Linked DNA regions of Homo sapiens. The protein of the gene in region 1 interacts with the protein of each later gene in a biochemical or structural test. Each region holds a gene or a part of one and is shown on either strand. Other genes may lie near its edges.

Region 1 (3,500 bases):
GTTCACAACTCAGTTGCACAAGTACTTTTTCCTTGAGACAGTCGTCCTTAAGTAGAAGTTGGTATGCAGCAGAAGTGGCTTATATGTAATCTTCATTTTTTTCACACAATTAGAAAAGGCCAATATTTAATAAAAGTAATCATTTTTTACTGTTTCCTCAAGGAATTCTTAAGTGAGCTGACTTTTAAACAAATTTTAGATGTGAAATCAGTGACAACTATTGCATCTTGATGTCATTACCTTAATTCATTCTAAAGCACCAGCAGTCTTACCCCTATGGCATCAATTCAAGTGTTAATACAATTTTTTTTTTAAAAAAAGTATTAGTATTATCATTAGGAAAATAGTTTTGACCCTGTGTACTCTCTGTAAAGGTCTCAGGACCCACATAGGGGCCCGTGGACCATGCTTTGAGTGCCACTCTTTTAGTTTACCATTGCTTCTTTTGCACATGAGTGTCACTTTTAATTAATACAGGCTCTTAAAGGACCTTATAGTATAGGGGTTAAAAGACATGGACTGTAGAGTCACTTAGGTCTGGGTTTGAACTCTGGTTTCTCCACTTAGTAATTATGGAGGCTAACTTAATTATGTCTAAGCCTTTGAAATGTTTAACAATGCCTAGCATAAAGTACATGCAGAGTAAATGGAACCTCTTACTATTTCTGCCAACTTACATAGTCATACATTGCATCCAAGTAAACCCCTATGTTCCATATCAGAATAACATTTTGCTTACAAAATTCCTCTTGTACCTCTGTGTGCCATAATCCAAACCACATCATACAAATTTGGGAAGGCTTCTTATTCCCCTTATTTAACAGTCACCTGAAAACCTACTTTCTCCCACATACTTCAGCCAAATTGTCACATACATACTAGTTTATGACTTCATTTCTTTAATCCTATGTTTTAAGTGGGTTACTAAATGCTTTATGTAGATTTTGTCACTGTTTTCTCAAAACATTGTAAATATAATCAGAAAACAACTATAATTCACACTATTTAGTACCCAGAATGAAAATGATTTAAGGTCATAGATATTTGTTGGTAATACAAGATTAAGTTGATTATTAAAGATGCTAAACTTTCCCAGGCACAGTGGCTCATGCCTGTAATCCTATTGCTTTGAGAGGCTGAGGCAGGAGGATTGCTTGATACTGGGAGTTTGAGACCATCCTAGGCAATATGGTGAGACCTTGTCTCTACAAAAAAATAAAAATAAAAAATTTAGCTGGATGTGGTGGCACACACCTGTAGTCATACCTATTTAGGAGGCTGAGGCAGGAGGATCGCTTGAGCCCAGAAAGTGGAGGCTGCAATGAACTATGACCATGCCACTGCACTCCAGCCTGGGTGACAAGAATGAGGTCTCATCTCAGATAGATAGAAATTTTTAAATGCTGACTTATTTTCTATTACTGTTTATTTACTATTCGGACAAAATTTAGTCACCTGTCATTTTTTCCCTAAATTTTTATTTACTTTAAACTTAATGTAAATTAGATTTTAACTAATGATGTATTTTGACAAACATGGAATTTCATGAATTTTTTTACTAACAAAAGTCGGAATCCTAAGATAGTATGTTTTTTACTAGTTCAGTGATGGACATATTGTCTAATATTAGAAGGTAAATCATAGTCTATCTCAGTGTCCTGTTCTTTAATAAAAACTTTAGTTTGCACATATCTACTCTTTATGTTTTTTAAAGTATGTCTTTCTGGACCCTTGAGGTAAGTGTTACATAAATTTATTTAGTTGAGTAGTTTTATCCCGAAAGACCTATGTTAAGTGGTCTCTGCTTGGTTGTATTAAATGGCCCTGTCCTGTTTGCCACCTGTTCTTCCTCTTCACACTGGCTTTTTAGCCACTTTAAGCTGTTACTGGTCCAGAAAAACAAGCAAGATAATACCTTAAGGTTTTCAAATAATTGTTAACATCACTCCTTGTTCTTTAGTAGGTGTGAAACCCAAATATTCTCCAGCTCTTTTTAAAATAGTGCAGAGGATTTGGTTCCTTGAGGCCGGGAGTTTGAGACCATCCTAGGCAGTATAGTGAGACCTCATCTCTACAAAAAATAAAAAATTTAGCTGGGTGTGGTGGCACACACCTATAGTCCTACCTATTTAGGGTAGGTTTGGTTCCTTATTTCACTTTTGAATATTATGTGGAGATGTTCATTTTACTACAGATATATCTATAGAATTGGGTTCATTGTTGATCAGCTGTTTCAGACACCTTAAATTTGTTCACGTTTTTTCTCTTAATGTTGTGAATAATTTTTCCCAATTCCCTTTTTATTCTCCAGCTTTAAAACAATGACAGTACAGGTTGAGCGTCCAAATCCAAAAATCTGAAATCCACAATGCTCCAAAATCTGAAACTTTAAGCACCTACGTGATGCTTAAAGGAAACACTCATTGGAGCATACCAGATTTTGGATTAGGGATGCTCAGTCTCTAAGTATTATGCAAACATTCTAAAATCCAAAAAAATCCAAAATCTGAAACACTTGTGTTCCCAAGCATTTCACATAAGGGATACTCAATGATGAAAAGTTTAATTAAGACCAATAAACAAATAAAAAATAGGATCCGCCTCATTAGTCATTAGGGAAACACAGCTCTAAAGCATGATGAGATACCACTTTACACCCACTAGGATGGCAGTATATAAAAAGAAAATAACAGGTGTTGGTGAGGATGTGGAGAAAGTGGAACCCTCATACATGCCTGATGGGAATGTAAAATGGTACGGCTGCTTTGGAATGCAGTTTGGCAGTTCCTCAAAAAGTTAAACAGTTAACATGTGACCCAGCAGTTCTACTAATTAGATATAAATCCAGGAGAATTGCAAACATAATGTCTGCACAAAAACTTGTAAATGAGTGTTCATAGCAGCATTATCCATAACAGCCAAAAGAGGGAAACAACTTGGCTGGGCGCAGTGGCTCACGCCTGTAATCCCAAGCACTTTGGGAGGCCAAGGCGGGCCGGATCACCTGAGGTTGGGAGTTGGGAAACCAGCACTACCAACATGGAGAAACCCCGTCTCTACTAAAAATACAAAATTAGCCAGGCATGGTGGCGCATGCCTGTGATCCCAGCTACCTGGGAGGCTGAGGCAGGAGAATCACTTGAACCCAGGAGGTGGAGGTTGCAGTGAGCTGAGATCGGGCCATTACACTCCAGCCTGGGCAACAAAAGCAAAACTCCTTCTCAAAAATAATAAATAAATATAAATAATTTAAATAAATAAAATAAAAGAAGGAAACAACCCAAATACCCATTAACTGATGAATGCACAAAGTATGGTATATGCATACAATGGAGTATTGTTCCGCTATAAAATGAAGTATAATAGTTCACCCTTATCTGCAGTTTTAGTTACCTGCAGTCAACTGTGATCAGAAACTAGGTGAATATGTGATACAACAAGATATTAATATTTAGAGAGAAAGAGATCCCACATTCACATGACTTTTCTTACAATATATT
Region 2 (3,500 bases), on another chromosome or scaffold:
AGAGAATGTGCATCCTTCCCCAAACCCCGAAGACAGGCAGCTTTGGCTTAAATATGCTTATTTATTTTCAAAATTAGAAAATAAACACATTAATGTAAATATGTTGAGACAGACAAAGAAATTTGTCTGCTACTTAATAAACACGCGATTTATACTTTTTGTCTTCTAATTAATTGTCGACCCTGAATAAGGTGGTACAACTAAGGCATATTATGGAAAACTGGCATTATTGCTTAATGTAACATGAGGGATTGGAATTTCTTTAAAGTAATTTTAAGATATGATTATTTAGCAGAAATATTCACTGGAGCATTTTACTTTTAGAAATTATCGTCACACAAGGAAGCCTTTATAGGACCGACTACCTAATTGCAGTCAAAGATCTCTTGAATGAATGAACACACACACACAGAAGAACACACATTTTAAGAATATAGTGGTCCTATATTTTTAAAAATTTTTGCCACATTTTTTATATCTGAACAGAACGTATGTGTCTAAGCAGATGTTTTAAGTTATATCCTTCATGTAGGTGAGTCTGTAAATGTACCATTTAACTTAAATGGCTTTGTGGGAAGGTAGTTTGAGGAGTTTAAAAAGGAAAAAAAAAAAAAAAAAAAACTCCAGTTACTACAGTTTCAGCTCTTTCTTTTTAAAAAACAGTAATTACACTCAGGATAAAGAAAGAAAAATAAACTCTTTTAATTCTTTGTAACATCCACAGTTTTTCAGGTAGAGTTCTGGTATATTTTTATTCCTGAATATGCAGGGCAGGTACTGGCAGCAGAGCTACAAAATGAAAACTTCCTGGCTGCAGACCAGATACTGTGCACAGTGCCACATCATAAACTTCCCCTCTTCTGTCTCGGAGTGATTTCAGCCCTAACTAATGTCCTTTATTTCCCCCTACATAGGGTAAGGAACAGAGGGCCTTCTTCCTGGGAAATAGGGGAAATACCTTTGGGAAAGGAAAAGTATAATGTTTCCCTTCTTTAACTTGAAAATTCTGCCTCTTAAATTACTAAGACATTAACTGCAAAGTGGATTCAGTATGTTTCCTTTTTATTCCCATATAGCAGTTTAGAATACATAAAACAATAGGTGTGAGATAGAAAATGAGACCTCTTCCCCACCCCCTACCTCCAGCACACCCAGACCCAATCAGATATCTGTACTTTTTGTTTCGAAAAGAAAAATATAATGGTTTCTTTTCAATGAAGCTTGTGCATTATATTCCAGATATGTTAGATCATTTTGTGATGCAAATTAGCATTGAGGTTTTTTGTACTTATCTCGGGAAATAGCAACGTTCCACCACAATGTGTGGTGCTGCAAAAATTTTTATTGATAAACACCCACACTTTAAATGATTATTAGGTCAAAATAGAGAGTACAGGGGGAGAAAATGTGAGCTTTTAGTTTTCAGATTTGTTTTATGCTTTTCATTTGAAAGGTACAGTGTAAGTTCTGTGTATAATACCATGCAAAATAAATTGACTTCTAAATATCTGCACTAATATTCCTTGTATCTGAAACTATAGTCTAAAAGCTTGTACTTCTCCTTAAAAAATAAAGTAAAACTTTGTTAAGAAGCAGGCTTTAATTACCAGTTACATTTTCAACTGTTACCCATGTGATTTTTAAAAAATCCTATTAAAAAATAATTTCTAGCTGCCATGGCTCCTTTCAATCAGTAGAATTCTCATTTGTATGAGGTGCAATCAGATTATTGCCAGCACACCTTTCTAAAACTAGCCTTCTTCTTTAGAAATGTATTAAATGGGAGCCTTCAGGAGAAAGTGTTACCACTTAATAAATATTTGTTCTAATTTTATTTTTAAACTAAATTATTGATTTAACAGTATATGAATAGTGTATAAATGTTAGCTTAGTTGTTAACCCACTACACTAATTATTAATTGCCTATATGAAATTTACCAAATTAGACCAACAGTTAAGTGTAATTTAATTTTATTTCTCTTGAAACTTAAATAGATAAGAATGATAATTTTAATTATGTTTAAATATCAAGCATTTATTTTTCTGTGAATGCAAATGTTCCCGATAAATTGTTAAGAAATTAATACAACATAGATCTTAAAAAATGTATAAGGCAGCTTATAAGAATATGATAACAATGGCATATTCCTACACCTGGCACTTTTTCAAGACCCATTAGCAAGGGAGGAAAAAGATGTTAAACTTTGTTTTGTAAATGCTAATATATATATGAGTCAATACTTTCTGACATTTATTTGTTAGAAAATTACACACATTTAAAAATTCAAATTAAAACTATGCTTCTATTTAGGCTATTGTAAGAGATTTCTTTATTTTCTTGGAAATTCTCTGGAACAGTAGGGTCATTTGAATCATACCCGTTGGTATTGTCAGATACATTGTAAAGTTTCAACTATTGAACATATGTATGGAATAGAAATTTTAAAATAGAAAATTCGCTATCTTGCCATTTAAGTATGATAAAACTATACCCGATTAAAACGTTGACTCTATTAGAGGTTCGCCTAGTAAGTAATTCTCTGGTCAAGAATTTGGGAAATTTTAAACTCTGTTAACCATTAAAACAATTACTTCTTTAAGGTACCGGATTTTCATCCATATTTGAGGAGCCTTATTAAGTTGTTGGGTGGTCTTTTTGTAAAGGTTTATGTGGTTAAAAAAGTAGATCTTTTCACCCTTCTATTACAGTTAACATTAATATCTTTAAAAGGTACTATATAAATCCAGACCTAATTTATTCTGGATGATTTTTCTTAACTAAATGAAATCTAACAAATTTGTCTATTTTTAAGTGAATCTTTTTTTTATTTCTAGTATTTATTGGAAGTTCACTTAGACTCTATATAGGTTAGAAGTTAAAGTAAATAATTTTGACTATTTTTTTCTTTCATTTCATGTTTGAATATTTCCCCCTTTACATAAACCAAAAAAAAAAAAAAAAAAAAAAAAAAAAAATCCGTGACGACATTGATAGATTTGCAGAAGGCTGAGTAAGATACTCAGTACCCATTAATTGTTTCCCTATGACTCTTGGGTTGAAATGAATCGGCAATATCCCTTCCAAGACTGTTTGATCTTGCTTGATTTAGAGTGAGCGTTATGTGATTTTTTCCCTCCGCTTCTCTCATTTTATAGCTTCAAAAAAATCAGAGAATTCTTGACTTCAGTGTTTTTTCCTTCCGTTTTCATTGTTTTTGGATTCTCTCCTGTCTGAGCTTCCTTCTTGCTTCAAAGTATTTGGTATCGTGAAAGCAAGTGCACTTTTAACTTGTTTTGACTACACATGGGCGACAGAATTGTTTTAGATGCTAACTTACCTCCTTACACTTGAGAAACTGATGTGGTTCATCACAGCCCAATGCCATGTCTTGAAACAACTGCGGACACTGATCTTGAAATAGCCAGGGCTATAGGATCATGTCTTTGTAAAGAACAACAGCAGCTTTAGAGTCACTGGATGGTATATTCGTTGCAAACAT

The links. Proteins that work in one complex are often made in the same cells at the same time.
Region 2: the proteins of KPNA4 (region 1) and MEF2C interact in a test that uses a peptide from one of them, tested with the Homo sapiens proteins (one large-scale study listed by BioGRID and IntAct).

Annotation. Positions count from the first base shown.
Region 1 is NC_000003.12:160,555,572-160,559,071, reverse strand, and holds part of KPNA4 (importin subunit alpha-3), read left to right. Parts: intron 1-3,500. UniProt on the Homo sapiens protein: Functions in nuclear protein import as an adapter protein for nuclear receptor KPNB1. Binds specifically and directly to substrates containing either a simple or bipartite NLS motif.
Region 2 is NC_000005.10:88,873,185-88,876,684, reverse strand, and holds part of MEF2C (myocyte-specific enhancer factor 2C), read left to right. Parts: intron 1-3,500. UniProt on the Homo sapiens protein: Transcription activator which binds specifically to the MEF2 element present in the regulatory regions of many muscle-specific genes. Controls cardiac morphogenesis and myogenesis, and is also involved in vascular development.